Linked DNA regions of Homo sapiens: region 1 is linked to region 2. A link means that fine-mapping ties the variant in region 2 to the expression of a gene that starts in the linked region. Tissue or cell type: whole blood. Region 2 holds a variant in brackets; the other region holds the start of a gene. All regions are shown on one strand. Distances are from middle to middle.

The links. PIP is the estimated chance that this variant, and not a neighbour inherited with it, causes the effect.
Region 1: it holds the start of AP3M2, and the variant in region 2 is fine-mapped to the expression of AP3M2 in whole blood (TOPMed, PIP above 0.99).

What each region holds. Positions count from the first base shown.
Region 1 is chr8:42,148,537-42,156,716 of GRCh38, forward strand. It overlaps AP3M2 (adaptor related protein complex 3 subunit mu 2), which reads left to right and starts at 4,527. Exons shown (of 9, transcript NM_006803.4): 1 at 4,527-4,569; 2 at 6,080-6,424. The coding sequence starts at 6,152. RefSeq lists an enhancer at 3,483-3,602 and a silencer at 4,433-5,042.
Region 2 is chr8:42,198,222-42,206,401 of GRCh38, forward strand. The region is part of intron 1 of PLAT (plasminogen activator, tissue type); the gene reads right to left. Among named protein-coding and RNA genes, the nearest start is that of PLAT, 5.3 kb to the right of the region's middle. The variant G/A (reference allele first, on the strand shown) is at 5,068.

The DNA of each region.
Region 1 (8,180 bases), 50 kb before region 2:
GCTATATACTGGATTCATGCGCCCTCCCCGCAAGGGGCCTCTCTTCCAGTGATCCCCATCTCAACACATGATGCTTCCATCCATGTCATTGCCCGAATCAGAAACCTACTCTGCCTCACCACTGACATTCCATTAATCCCTAATCCCTATCTTCTCTGGAAGGTGTCCACTTCTCTCTAATCCCTGCCTCATGGCTCCAGGCACTAGCTCTCTCCTAGGGATTACTGCAATTGTCTAAATAACCTCCCAGCCTCCAGGCTCAGCCTGTTACAGTCCATCCTGCACACATAGTCTTTCTGAAATGGAAATCTGAAAGTGTGCCACTCTCCTGCTTCACATTTCTTCAATGGGTTCCTGGGCTTAGAGGTAGGAAGTGTGGAATCTGAGCCATTCTGCTCAGATCTTCCAACGTCCTTGAATCACAGCTTTGCTGTTCGACCTTGGGCAGTTATTTAAGCTGTCTTTGCAGCTTCCTCATCTACGAAAAGGGGATCACAACGGTAATTCATTTTAGAGTAGTTGGGGGGATTAAATGATTTCAGATCCTCCTCTCTTATGTGAACTCTTAAATTTGGAGTGTCCCTGGAATCTGGTTCTCTTATCTCTCCACACTCCTTCCCTCGGTCATCTCAACAGGTCCTACTACTTTAAATATCCATATACTGAAAACACCCAAATTTATATCTCAAGCTCAGCCCACTCTCCTGAACCCTGGACTTATATGTCCAGCTGCCTTCTCAACATCTCCACTTGGATAGTTAATGGAGCTCACAGATATATTGATATACTTTGGATGTTTGTCCCCTCCAAATCTCATGTTGAAATGTGATCCCCAGTTTTGGAGGTGGGTCTAGCAGGTGTCATGGGGTTGGATCCCTCGTGAATGGCTTGGTGCCCTCCCCATGGTAATGAGTGAGTTCTCACTCTGTTGGTTTATGAGAGAGCTGGTTGTTTAAAGGAGCCTGGCACCTCCTCTCTCTCACTCCTGCTTTCACCATGCAACTGCCCGCTCCCCTTTCACCTTCTGCCATGAGTAAAAGCTTCCTGAGGCCTCACCAGAAGCTGAGCAGATGCTGGTGCCACGCTTGCATAGCCTACAGAACCATGAGCCAAATAAACCTCTTTTTTTTTAATATTATAAATTACCGAGTCTCAGGTATTCCTTTATAGCAAGCTTGTCCAGCCCAAGGCCCATAGGCTGCATGCGGCCCAGGATAGCTCTGAATGCAGCCCAACACAAACTCATAAACTCTCTTAAAACATTATCAGATTTGTGATTGCTTTTTTTTTTTTTTTGAGACGGAGTCTTGCCTTATTGCCCAGGCTGGAGTGCAGTGGCACAATCTTGGCTCACTGCAACTTCCACCTCCCAGGTTCAAGCAATTCTTTTGTCTCAGCCTTCCGAGTAGCTGGGATTACAGGTGTTCGCCACCACACCCGGCTAATTTTTGTATTTTTAGTAGAGACAGGGTTTCACCATGTTGGCCAGGCTGGTCTCGAACTCCTGACCTCAGGTGATCCACCTGCCTCAGCCTCCCAAAGTGCTGGAATTACAGGCATGAGCCACCGTGCTTGGCCTACCCATAGTCTTTCTAGTCTCAGCTGATGAAACTATCCTTCTCCATGCTGAAGCTCAGTGGCCCTCCCTTCTCTCTTGTTCTCACTCCCTGCATCCCATCCATCTGGAAATCCAGCTGGCTCCTCCTGGAGACTACACGCACAGTCCACCTCCTCCTCACCACCTCCATGGCTACAGCCTGGTCTGAGCTCCATCACCTCTCGCCTGGGTCACTGCAGCGGTCTCACTAGTCTTCTTGCACAGTCTTCTCAACCCAGATGACTGATAAATCAGATCCTATCACCCCTTTGTCCAAACCCTCCATGGGCTCTCTCTTTCACAACCATAATCTTTAAAAGAGCTTTCTAGCCCCTGTGTGATCAGGCCACCCACCCTGTAACCTTGTCTCCTCCTTTACCCTGCGCTCATTTCACTCCAGCCACACTGTCACCCTTCCTGCTCCAGAAACTCCCCAGGAGCATTCTGGCCTTACAGGCTTTGCAGTGCCTGTTCCCTTTGCTGGAATGCTCTCCCCCAAGATCTCCCTATAGTTAACTCTTCTGCCTTCTTCAAATCTTTGCACTAATGTCTCTTCTCAATGAGGCTTGTTCTCACTACTCTCTTAAAAACTGTAATTTGCCCTCCAATCCCATAACACTCCTGGTAGTTTTTTTTTATTGCACATGCCATCTTATAACCTACTATATACTTTACTTATGTATATTGATTATTATCTGTCTTTTCCCCACTAGAATATAAGCCTCACTAGGACAGGGTTTTTTTTTTTTTTTTTTTTTTTTTTTGAGACAGAGTCTCACTCTGTCGCCCAGGTTGGAGTGCAGTCGTGCGATCTTAGCTCACTGCAACCTCTGCCTCCTGGGTTCAAGCGATTCTCCCGTCTCAGCCTCCTGAGTAGCTGGGACCACAGGTACGTGCCATCACGCCTGGCTAATTTTTTAATTTTAGTAGAGACAGGGGTTCATCATGTTGGCCAGGCTGGTCTTGAACTCCTGACGTCAAGTGATCCGCCCACCTCAGCCTCCCAAAGTGTTGGGATTACAGGCGTAAGCCACCGCGCCCAGCTCCAAGAGATTTTTGTCTTTTGTTTACTGGTGTTATGTATCCAAGCACTGGAACAGTGCCTGGCGCATGGTAGGGCTCACTAAATATTTATGGAATGGTACTTACAAATTATAAAACACAGTGTATGGCACACAGTGTTTTATAAATATTAACATTTCCAAGGTTCACAACCACTAGGCTCCCTACTTACCTTTCCAGCCTGATCTCCCTGCGCTCTTCCTACCATTCCAGCTCAGCTATACTTAACTTGCTCATCTGCAGAGCCTTCCTTATGTACTTTTTTCTCTGTCCATCTATCCCTGCATTTGAGGGATCCTTTCTCATTTTCAGGTTTCAAGGTAGAGGGTCTTCCCTGACTCTAGGTCAGCCATCTCTACAGCACTCCTCCCACCCCCTATGCGTTCCTTATTCATCACACTGCATTGCAATCCCTTGCTTCTCATTTGTCTTTCCTGCTGGGCCCTGTAACCACAGGGACAATGCCTGTGACAGCAGTCATTGCAGCATCTCCAGCATCCAGCACAGGTCGATACGTGGGGGTTTTCGGCAAATGTTAATTCAGTGAATGAATGAGAAATTCTCACGGCAGCGACTGCATTTCTGCACCTTCGACACACATTATCACGTGTTATTGTATCTTGTGCTGTTCCTTAGGGCATAACAATTGCTAGCATTTTCTAACTCAATCCTCACAACTCTAGGAGGGAGGTACTATTCACGTTCTTATTTGAGAAGTGAGGAACTTGAAGTTTAGAGGAGTTACAGTTCTTTCTCACGGTCACTCAGGTTGTAAGTGTTGGAGCGGGTTCAAGCCAAGTCCTCTGGCACCAGCGTCCCTAAGCCCACCCAGAGTCATACCATTCTGCCATTTTGTTTCTGGCTTTTCTTCATAGTTCAAAGTCAGCCAACTACCTGCCCTTAGCAAGCGTGGAGAGAACCCCCCGCACCACCTCAGCAAAGGGCTTGTGTGTGGAGGAGCTGCCACCCACGCTCCATTTCACCAAAGTGACAACTAATGCTAGGGAGGGCGAACCTCTCATCGGCGAGGTCGCCACTGTCACCAGCGCCCACTGCTGGGTCCAAGGCTGGCGACGCCTCACCGCATCTGGGCTTGACTTCCTGCGTCACTGGGGCGACCCCTGGTCCTGACTTCCACTCCACGCCTTCGTGGATCAGGACGACTGGGACCACTCAAAAGCGTATCCAAGTCCTGAGGTCTCCAAAGCGGTGGAGAGACCCGCCCAGCCCCTCACTCCCCGGCTGGGAACTGAGATTGTGGAGGGTGGGCGCCCTGCCGCGGCCCAGTGGGGCTGGGGGCTTCCAGAGTCGGGGTCCAGGGCTCGGTGTCCGAGACTCCACCGCCAGCCGCGCCGACCTGACCCACGGCCGGGTACAACAGAGAAGGCGGCGCTTCCCAAAGGCACCGATGGAGTGCAGGGTAGCCGCCGCCCTCAGGATTTATCAACCGCGAGGCGCTGTCAGCAACTCGTGCCCGGAAGCCACCCCGCCCCGGCACACACATACTCCAGCGCCCCCTCCAGGCGCACTCCGCAAACACGCGAGCGCGGCGACCGCCCCAGCCCTTTGTGACTGGATGAGTGGGGCCGAGCAGCACGCACTGTCTTCGACCTCCAATCAGGACTCGGGGTCTCGGAGCTGTACCAATCGGAGATGACCGTGGCCTCAACAGGGCCAATCGGGGGACTCGAGCCCGACAACAGGGCAAGCCGCCAACAGCGATCAATCAGAGGGGAGGAGCGGCTCCCAGATACCCAATCAGCGGCCTTCAGGCGCAGATCGTGGGCGGAGCGGTAGCCAGGCCGCGGGCCGGCCAATCAGCGGGCGAGCGGCTGCCTCAGCGCGCGCGGCGGGCGGGGCGGGGCCTGTCCGCGCCTAGGAGCAGTGGGCGCTGAGAGCAGCAAGGCCAGGTGAGGAGTAGGGACGACCCCGAGCCTGGAGAGGGGGCAGGAGTGGGGGCGCGCGAGGGTCGGGGCGGGGTCTCAGGATGCAGCCGGGCGGCCTCTCAGGGCTGCGGACGCGGCGGGGAGAGGTGAGGGGCCGGGTTCAGAGTTCGGGGAGGGCGTCCTTCCCGGCGCCGCGGCTGCGGGCGGAGGGGACACTGTTGCCATGGCAGCGCACGTGCGCTCGCTGGCGCGGCCCGGCACCCCTGCGCTCTTCACCCCGGAACGCGCGTGCCCCTTCAGCCAGGCCCCTGCCCGCCTGCGCCCCGCGGCCTCCGTCGCCGCCGGCTCTGGGCCGGGGCCTGCGCAGGGACCGCCTGCCTAGGCCGCTGCCTCTCCCTCGCACCCCGGGCTGCCTGGCTGTCTCTCCCTCCTGCTGTCTCCTCCAGGCGGCGCTGGGCACCGCAGGCCTCTGCGTTTTGACCACCCGCGCCGGTTCGCGGAATGGCCACATCCTGGCGACTGGCACCAGAGAGATGCAACCGTCTGAGGGCCTTGGGGTGTCTGTCCCCCAGGGAAATTTTTTTTTTTTTTTGGAGGTGGAGGGGGCGGGGTTCTCCCTCTGTTGCCCGGGCTGATCTCGAACTCGTGAGCTCCAGCGGTCTGCCCGCGGAGGCCTCCCTAAGTACTGGGATCACAGGCGGGAGCCCCAAGGGATCTTTTTAAATGTCTTACTGCATTAACAAGTGCCTAAGGAGTGCTCAGAGAATAGCTCTGATTGGATGAATAAAGACCCCCAAGGGCAGCTTTCCATTCCTCCCACCAATTCTGGTGGGCAGAAATAGAAAGCAAACCACATATGTAATTGTACATGTTCTGGTAACCACTTTAAAATAATAAAACAGGTTAAATTAATTTTAATATATTTGATTTAACCCAGGATATCCAAAATGTTATTACAACATATAATCAATATTAAATTATTGGTAAGATATTTGAAATTTTTTTTTTCATGCAAAGCCTTTCAGATTTGTCGTGTGTCTTACACTTAACAGCACACCTCAGTCCGCACCAGCCACCTTTCAAGTGCTCGCTGGTCCCATAGTGGCTATCGTATTAAGCTGCGCATTTCTTGTGTATGTGTGAGCTGTTGCCAAAACATGACATCAAATTCAGTGTTCTTGGAAGCCCTCTTCAAAGAACACTGATTGTGTTGCAGTCAGGCAACGCAAAACATGAGGCACGGCCCTTTTCTTCAAGGAGTTTGCGGTTCGGTTGAGAAAATAGACACCCACAGATAAGTAGTATTTTAAATGGATGCAATTTGGGCGATAGTAAAGATAACTGGGAGTATATGATTGACAGTCAGATGACTGATCATTATCGTTTCGAATTCAAGGGAGGGCTATCTTCAGGCTCATGCAGGAGGGGAAGATTGGGCCTGGTCTTGAAAGATGGGTAAGTCTTGGACTGTTGGGAAAAGATGGGGAGGGCCTTTTGGTTGAATGGAACTGAATATCGCTGCTTTTGTTTTTAGAGTTGAAAACTTACAGAGTCCTGAGGCTTTCAGACTGAAAAAGGCTTTCTTCTGTCACTGACAATCGCCACCATGATCCATAGTCTTTTCTTGATCAACTCCTCTGGAGACATTTTCCTGGAGAAACATTGGAAAAGTGTGGTCAGCCGTTCTGTTTGTGATTACTTTTTTGAGGCGCAAGAGAGAGCTACTGAGGCAGAAAATGTGCCTCCGGTTATCCCTACCCCTCACCACTATCTCTTAAGTGTTTACCGCCACAAGATCTTTTTTGTGGCCGTGATCCAGACGGAGGTCCCCCCTCTGTTTGTCATTGAGTTTCTTCACCGAGTGGTGGACACATTTCAGGTTCGTGAATGTGGGAAAGTTCATATATGTAAACCGTAAAGTGTCTTTGTAGTCCTGTTTCCATTGTGTAAAGCCTCCATTAAGAAACTTAAAAAAAAAAATCAAAACTCTGGTATTACTCACTTCCTCTCCCATCTGATAAGATTCTGGTTTCTATTTATTGAATTGGCTGCATGCAAAATGACAAATGGAATACTTTTGAACCTCTTGCGTGGGAAAGTCATCCTATTTGCGATGACTATATATAGCCTTTCTAGCTCTGATTCTACTTTTTGCTCACAAATTAGAGTTTAGATTGTTTTTGCCTGGTGGTCTTGATCCTAACCATTGTTATCTGCATTGCTTTGAGTTGCATCAGAAAGTGATTGTATAAAGTTTTAGAAAAGAAAAAGTAGAAAAAGCTAAGGAATGCTTAATTTAACTCTCCCAGTCAGGGGTAACTCATGAACCTGTACTAGTTCTCAGGTTTGAGGTGGTTCTTTATAGTGAGAGAGTGGTACTGATGAGCTCTGCTTGCAAAGATGAGATTGGGAAATCTCATGTGCCTGTAAGAATTTAAGTGAGCCATTTTATGAGGCAGTTTTCATTTTAAGCTTTTTCTTCAGGAATAGATGTTAAGAACTTAGGGGGTGATGTCCAAGGGAGGTCAGTGATACCAGGACACGACACCATTTGCAGCACAGGAGTTCAGACAGCACCGGCCCTGGATTCACACAGAGGAACTTTCTCCCAAAAGAACCAATCAACTTCTAACTGTTGTGGTTATTTGCATAACTCAAATGAGAAGCGAGGGCCTTTTGGTTTAACTTCTGTGTCATATGAGGTCTGGAATGAGTCATATGAACACTGGAATTGTGGAATTGGAGAAGAGAATGAGGACCCACACACTATGATAAAAGTTAAAAAGCAAGTCAAAGAGTTCCTTCTCTTGTACTCATATCTGCACCACGTCTAGAACAACTTCCCTTCCCAAGAGAATTAAAATACATTTTTTGTTTTTCCCTGCAATACTCTGTAGTACTACTGTTCTGGAATTTCAGTTCTCATGCAACATACCGGCCCCTTTGCACAGTGAAAACGTAAGTATAAGTCCCAGTATGTGGAAGAACTAGAAGAACCCAGGAGTTGTGATCCTAAACAACTTTTAACTGGGCCTTGTTATGATTTCCACGTGTGATACTTTACTCATTCTGAGATTAACAGTCGCACTGGTGAAACTGACAGCCGCTATATGGCCATACTAATGTAACTTATTACAAGACAGGAAGTGAGAAGAGTTGTTTGATCTAGTTGAAACCATGGGGGAATTTGGGAAAGCAGAGTAAATTTGCTAATTTGGAAGTCTGAGACTTCAGAGCTTGTTATTCTTGAAGCAGTTGTTAAAAGTCAGTGGACATCCTGATTCTCAGGTCTCCGATGTGGATGTGCATCCTCTCCGGCAGCATGATTTTTCCAGGACCAGAATGTGACAGGAGCGGCCCCGCAATAGAATTGCAGGCTCACAGGCCGGCTGCAGCACTTGGCTGTATTGCGAGGCTCCTTTCCAGCTGCTTAGTTCACATGATGCCTGGTTTATAAAACCTAGTGAAGTGTTTTATTTTTTAAAAATAAATCACTTTTGGGAAGGAAATGTGTGACTTTTTCTTCTTTTAAATTATCATTCAAAATGAGAATTTTCCTCTTAAAGAGGAAATCTTTTTGTTTTAGGAATACATTCCTGACTCTTAGGTGACCCGGGTATTGGAATCTTGTGGAT
Region 2 (8,180 bases):
GCTCACACCTGTAATCCCAGCACTTTGGGAGGCCAAGGCTGGCAGATCTCTTGAGGTCAGGAGTTCAAAACAAGCCTGGCCAACATAGTGAAACCCCATCTCTACTAAAAATACAAAAAAATTAGCTGGGCATGGTGGCGGGCGCCTATAATCCCAGCTACTCAGGAGGCTGAGGCAGGAGAATCGCTTGAACCCGGGAGGCGGAAGTTGCAGTGAGCCAAGATTGCGCTACTGCAGCCTGGGCGACAGAGCAGGACTTCGTCTCAAAAAAGATTATACAGAAAAGTGACTTGCAATAAAGGAACTGTACACATGTAGTCAATCAATGAAATTGCAAACAGTGCAGTCGCTCCAGATGTTAGTGAACTGGAGAATTATAGTCTGTACTCTTGCCAGCAAGAAGAAGGCAGAAACGTGAGCAAGCTAGAGGAGGAGGGAAATTGCAAGGGAAAGACAAACGTAAATTGATACTATTATCAAATGTTGCACCATGTGCAAAGTTTGCTACATTTATCTTTGGTCAAGGAGATTCTTAGGTTATTGTTGCTTAGCAAAAGGTCTCTCTGAAAACCTGAGCAAGAGAAAGTCAGTCTTCAAGAGTACCAATACCCTAAAATGACTCATGGATTTAAAACAACACACTCTCCACTGCCACCCCCGCCACAACCACCATAGCCCAGATGAATGCCAACAATTAAGAAAAGAAACGGCCAGGATTCCTTGGACCAGCAAAGGCACGTTTCTAGAGCAGGACGAGAGCTGAAGTGAGATGCTGGGAGAGGAACTAGCCTTGGAAAGGGTGGCGTGCTCCCACGAAAGCAACCCTTTGTTCGGGACAGGAGCTTTGAGCCTGGTAGCTCTCATCCCACTTCTCCAGGCCCTGCATAGTACAGAGGCCATGATCTCAGAATAAAAACCACTTTCAAAAACTACCATCACATAAGTAATTCTTAACTTTTCGAAAAGGTGATTTTCTATAGGCTAAATGGTTATTTTCCCTCTCTTAACAGAACTGTTTATAACTAGGGGAGAAGAGAGGAAGAGTCTGTTTCTTATCTAATTTCACCAATTCCAATGAAGTGAAGAGTATAGCATCCTCTCAGAGCTGGGTGTGGTGGTTTGCACCTGTAGTCCTAGCTACTCAGGAGGCTGAGGCAGGAGCATCACTTGAGGCGAGGAGTTCAAGACCAGCCTAGGCAACATAGCAAGACCCCATGTCTTCAAAAGAATAGAATATTTTCCTGGCAGACCCTGCCCCCCACCCATCAGAGCAGAATTTTCTCCAAAACATCTTCCAAATGTAGGCATATGGCCTGTGTCTAAGCTATATGGAATTAAACTCAGAAAAAGCTACAGCAGGCATGTCCAGCTGTCATCTCCTCAATGCTCCACCCTCTGCCTGGTAATCCCGGTTATTTGGAGGAGTGGGGAATTTTGGTTGTGGGTCTAGGAAAACAGAAGTCTATCCCGCCTCCTCCCACAATCAAAACAGAAGAAACCCTGTCCTAATACACTTAGATCCTTCTGAAGCAAACACAAGGACCACCTGGTGAAAACTAAATCAGTCAGTGCAATAAAATGTTAACTGCAAAGTCTGCATCTAAACAAGCCCTGAAATCTAAAGTGAATCGAAATGAATGTCATCTTCCGTGATGAAGGTCGTTCGTTCCTCATGTTCCTTCCACTCCCTAAAGCAAACATCACCACAAGGTAATTAAATACGCAATGATTTGACAATTCTCCAGCCCAACTCCACATTTCAACACACTTGAATTAGGAAATACTGATCAGAAACTTTCATTGTATCATTATATGACTTTACCCACATTTTACTGGCCTTAGGTGAAAGTGACATTATTGTTGCCTGAGAAATGTACACATGGATGAATGCCACTCACTCAACAGATATTTGAGTAGCTTCTACCTTTCCAGGCACAGAGTTTACTAAACCCTTTCACATCCATTAAGTCATTTGAGGCAATATTATTACCTCGTTTTTACAGATGGGAGAACTGAACTTCAAAAAAGTGTAAGGGGCTGAGAGCAGTGGCTCACGTCTGTAATCCCAACACTTTGGGAGGCTGAGGAGGGTGGATCATTTGAGCCCAGGAGTTCAAGATCACCCTCGGCAACATAGGGAGACCCTCGGCTGTACAAAAAATACAAAAATTTGCAAGGTGTGGTGGCTCACATCTGTAATCCCAACACTTTGGGAGGCCAAGGAGGGTGGGTGGCTTGATCCTTGGAGTTTGAGACCTCCCTGGGTAACATGGCAAAACCCCATCTCAACAAAAAAATACAAAAAATTATTTGGGCATGGTGGTACATGCCTGTAGTCCCAGCTACTTGGGAGGCTGAGGTGGGAGGATGGCCTGAGCCTGGGAGTTTGAGGCTGCAGTGAGCTGTGATCATACCACTGCACTCCAGCTTGAGACAGAGCAAGATCCTGTCTCAAAAAAAAAAAAAAAAAAAGTATAAGCGTCGTGCTGTACGGTGACACATCTTGTGAGAGTTGGCATCAGGACTCAAGCCCAGGAGACACAGTTCTCTTACCCCAAATCTAACACTCTTTCCACTACTCCTCACTGTCTATGTGACACCCAATTGTAACTTTTTTTTTTTTTCTGAGATGGAGTTTCACTCTGTTGCCCAGGCTGGATTGCAACGGTGCAATCTCAGCTCACTGCAACCTCCGCCTCCTGGGTTTAAGCGATTCTCCTTCTTCAGCCTCCCGAGTAGCTCGGATTACAAGTGTGTGCCACCATGCCTGGCTAATTTTTGTATTTTTAGTAGAGACAGGGTTTCGGCATGCTGGCCAGGCTGGTCTCGAACTCCCAACCTCAGGTGATCTGTCCACCTTGGCCTCCCAAAGTGCTAGGATTACAGGCGTGAGCCAACACGCCTGGCCATAACGTTCTTAATGTGTTCCACATGGTATACGACAGCAGAATGCCACAAAGAAGGGGCGTGGTCACTGGATTCTCAACCTGGAAATCTAACTGCATTTACAGCACACATTCTGTGTGGGCAACTCACTCTCTCTGAGCCTGTTTCCTGGTTTTTGTCATGGGCTAATCATTTCCGTCTTGCTGAATTGTAAGGTAACTGGAAAAGAAGCAGGAAAGTCCTTCCCCCACACCTGGGTGCACGGCAGGAGCGACCTGCACCTACTGTCATGAACATCCTTCCTCAACAAAAGCACTGAGGCTTCCCGCTTCTCCCTGGAACAACTTGAAGCTGCTGATGCAGAAGAGATGCCACGCTTCATGGGGTCCTCATGGATCCCCGTTAATACTGAATCCTGCTTCCTAGATCATCCGACCACCTGTGTTAGCCTATAACCAATTCTCTGCAATTGATGTAGAATTTTGTGCCTTCATCTGTGTTCGTAGAACAGTATCAACAGGAGCCATTATTTCCTGAATACAGGGTGATGTCTTTAATCTGGTTTTTAATCTGCTTTTTTATTTGCCTTTCCCACACCATGCATGCAGAGGCCACTGTGGACTCCCAGCAGAAGCCAGAACTAGCAGCTGAGATGACACAGCTGAGACATCAGGCCATCTCTATTGATAAGGCCCATCTGACCAAGCCACACTATGAAAGTCAGAGGCATCATGTGAGAGAAATAAGGAAATTGGAGCTTCCCAGAAAAAAACCCTTCGCTTTCTCTCAGTAGCCCAGGTGTTAGACACCGGCTCTTGCTACAACAAGATAAAATACAACGGGTTTCTCTTTTTGGTGAACATGACAGAAAGAGAATAACCAGCAGAAATCAAGTTGACCAGTAGTCTCTCTTTCTTATTTATTTGTTTTGAGACAGGGTCTCGCCCAGTCACCCAGACTGGAGTGCAGTGGCGTGATCACAGCTCACTGCAGTTTCAACCTCCCTGGCTCAAGTGATCCTCTCACCTCAGCTTCTCAAGTAGCTGGGACTACAGGTGCGTGCCACCATGTCTGGCTAATTTTTTTTTTTTTTTCATTTTTTTGTAGAGACAGAGTCTTCGCTATGTTCAAGACCCGGGCTGGTTTCAAACTCCTTGGCTCAAGCAACCCGCCCACCTCGGGCTCCCAAAGTGCTGGGATTACAGGCAGGAGCTGTGTGCCCGGCCTCTGTTAGCTCATCCATACTGGGTTATCGGGTTTAGCATCCCCTCCCAGTCCCTGTCCCCTGCCTTCTGGAGACTCAGCTGAAATAAAAACTGCCCACATCAAGAGTCCCATCTATGGGGCTGGAGAAGCTGCAGGGATGTCCTCCTCCCAGCGCCTACCAGACCCCCACCCTGCCCCCCCAGCCCTCAAGCACCCACATGAGCTGCTTCTCTGTTAAGCATTCACAGACAATGATCTACCCATGCTATATATTCACCATCAACGTGTATGGAGCACCAGCCGTGCCCTGGCACAGGCTCTGGTGATGCAAAGACACAGCTCTTATCCTGAAAGAGCTCATAGTTAGGAAGGGGCCTGATGAATAACTAGACACTCAGGGTACAGCAGAGCAGCGCCATACCACGCAGCAGGGTGGGGACGGGGGTGGGCTTGGAGTGGAATGTGGAGGAGGTTGTCCATCCCAGGCTTGTTGAGGTTGGGGTGGTCAGGCAGGCTTTCTGGAATGCATAACACAGAAGCTGTTCCGGGAACACACGAAGGAGTTAGGCAGACAGTGAAGGGGTCTGCTCCAGACAGAGCACATCCCCACGGCTTGGCTCTGGGCCACAGCAAGCACAGAGCCCCCTACCCATCAGCACAGCTCCCGACAGCAGGCAAAGGTGACAGTCGCCCCCGGGCTCTTCTGCCAGGGTGTCCTGGGAGGACGTGTGCTTTGGAATCTCTGAGTGTTCTAAGGATCTAGGGGCCTTTGTAGGAGTCCAGCATGGATTCTCTAATGCCTAGCTGTATGTTAATGGAATAGTTGTGACTACATAAAAAAAACAAAAGGCTCTCAATACACAGGTCTCCTGGTATCTGGGTTCAGCCTAACCTGGAAGTGATCACTTCAGAGGCTCCAGGTGGAATCAGATCTTCTGATCAATCCTCAAAAAAACTTCCCTAAGCCACCAGTGC[G/A]TGTGTCAGGAGCATCGCGTGGTCACCCATGCACATCGGCTGGGCCTGTTAGCCAAGTCGCTGCTGGGTCTTGGCCATTGGTGTGTGCAATTCACAGCCGGGCAGCTGCTGCAGACACCCAGTCATATACTTGTATAGGAAGAACAGCTGGCTAGCATTTCCTGGCAGCCATGATCAGCACCACAACTCAGGCAAAGTTGAGTTCAAAAATGTTTCTAAAACACTTGCTGTGTGCCCAGCACCTGTTTCATCTTCACTCTGTCACAGGTGTTATTTTTGAGTGGATCAAGAATTGGGTTTATCTGTCCCTCTATCCCATTCTACAGAAGTTTCCCAAGTGGCATACATAGAAAATATTTTTTGAATATATAATATGCAAAATATCACTAAGAGGGACTGGGCACAGTGGCTCTTGCCTGTAATCCCAGCATTTTGTGAGGCCATGGCAAGAGGGTTGCTTGAGGCCAGGAGTTTGAGACTAGCCTGGGCAACAAAGCAAAACTCTGCTTCTACAAAAAAATTTTATAATTAGCTGGATATGGCAGCATGCCCCTGTAGTCCTAGCTACTTGGGAGGCTGAGATGGAGGATCACTTGAGCCCAGGAGTTTGAAGGTTCAGTGACCTACGATCACACTGCTGCACTCCAGCCTGGGTGATGGAGTCAGACCTTGTCTCTAAATTATATATATATATATATATATATACACACACACACACACACACACACACACACACACACATACAAACACATATTGCTAAGAGAATGTGCTGTCTTTTTATGTAAGTAGAAAACTGAGCCACTATCGGAAGACCATGTGGCTTGACTTAGGGTTGGAGCAGGGTGGATGAGCTTTAAATTTATTTCTAGCTCTAATTTTCTTTGAGTCTAAATCATCCTCACTCTTTTACCTGGTTTGATGTGAGACCCACCATATGGTTTTGTGAGCTGCTTGACTAGGACGAGGTTTATAGCCTGACACTATAGACAGACATTTTCTCCCGTATATACAAAAGAAATGGCCCCAAGAAGGAATGAGCAGAATGCACTGGTCCCTTATTGTCCGTCCCAACAATCTCATCAAAGCAGAAGCGAAAATCACTCAGAGAAAGTAAAAAATTTATTCTGAGACTGCAGGTGCATAATGCCAAATAATCAAAGAAAAACCTGTCTGGGCATGGTGGCTCACGCCTGTAATCCCAATACTTTGCGAGGCCAAGGCGGGCAGATCACTTGAGGTCAGGTGTTCAAGACCAGCCTGGCCAACATGGTGAAAACTTAGCTGGGTGTGGTGGCGGGCGCCTGTAATCCAAGCTATTTGGGAGGCTGAGGCAGGAAAATCGCTTGAACCTGGGAGGTGGAGGTTGCAGTGAGCCAAGATTGTGCCACTGCACCCCAGCCTGGTGAAAAAGCGAGACTCCATCTTAAAAAAAAAAAAAAAGAAAAGAAAAATTGGCCGGGCATGGTGGCTCATGCCTGTAATCCCAGCACTTTGGAGGAGGAGGGCAGATCACGAGGTCAGGAGTTCGAGACCAGCCTGATCAACATGGTGAAACCCTGTCTCTACTAAAAATATAAAAATTAGCCGGGCGTGGTGGCTTCAAGTGACACTACCAAGGTATGAAAGGAAAATAAATCTCAAGACCCCCAAATCACTAAGCCAAAGGGAAAAGCCAAGCTGGGAACTGCATGAGGCAAACCTGCCTCCCATTTTATTCCTACATAAGACGGCTACAAAGATAAAAGGCTACATACCTCTCTCACAATTTACCCACAAGGAAACTCCTTGTGGACTTCAAGATCTTTACCCTAAAACAGTTCTGCTGAACTTCACCTTGGCAATGCAAATGGGTACAGGACAAAGGACAGAACTCAAAGTCATCCCTCTGCTCACCTGAGACAAACGCATATCTGATTGCTTCCTCTGCCCTATTGTTTTTGTAAAAATGAAGATTCAGGCCAGGCATGTTGGCTCATGCCTGTAATCCCAGCACTTCGGGGGGCCGAGGTGGGTGGATCACCTGAGGTCACGAGTTCAAGACCAGTCTGGCCAACATGGTGAAACCCTGTCTCTACTAAAAATACAAAAATTAACCAGGTGTGGTGGCAGGCGCCTGTAATCCCAGTTACTCAGAAGGCTGAGGCAGGAGAATCACTTGAACCTGGGAGGTGGAGGTTGCAGTAGCCGGGATCATGCCATTGCACTCTAGCCTGGGCAAAAAGAGTGAAACTCCGTCTCAAAAAAAAAAGTAGATTCACTGAGCCAACTAAGGCATAAGTGACTCTTCCTCTGCCCCCCTCTCATATGTAAATTGTGTATTCAGTGAAAGGCTGACAAAGACTCAGAAGAATGAAGCCTTCTCTTATCTACCTATGACCTGGAAGCCCCTACTTCGAGTTGTCCTGCCTTTCCAGACCGAACCGGTGCACATCTTACATACATTGATTAATGTCTCATGTCTCCCTGAAATGTATGAAACCAAGCCATACCTTGGCCACCTTGGACATATGTCCTCAGGATCTCCAGAGGCCGTGTCACATGTGTGTTCTTAACATTGGCAAAATAAACTTTCTAAATTGACAGACCTGTCTCAGATACTTTTGGGTTCACAAAGGAGTGCCTGACTGTTTTTTGGAATCCTTTGAAATCTACTGGCCGCTGGCTCTGCTCAGCAACGTCAGGCCCTGGGGGAAATCAAAGCCTCAGTGAACTCAAAAACCAACAAAGGGGAACTGCTATTCCCAGCTATTCCCTGGCTGCCTGGACTGTCCCAGGCCTGTGATGAAGCAGGGGGAGCCGCAGACACTGGGAGAATCCGACGCGAGTCATTGTGAAATAAACCAAGCTGGTCTTGGGGAGTCGGGCAGAGAAGGAGCATTTTGGAGACAAGGGCAGCTTTCATTTGCTCCTGAGATTTTGATCTGGGGCTTTATCATTTGATCCAGAGCTTGGAGGCTTGCATCTTTGAGAACATTTTAGGTGGAATAAATGGGTGGGCAGGATGGAGCTATTCATATCTCAATACTCACAGTGTCCCTGCCAGTGCTGGAGTCCGACTCTGCCTGCACAGGAAGCACGCACCCAGCAGCTCATGCTGACCGTCATGGATTGAG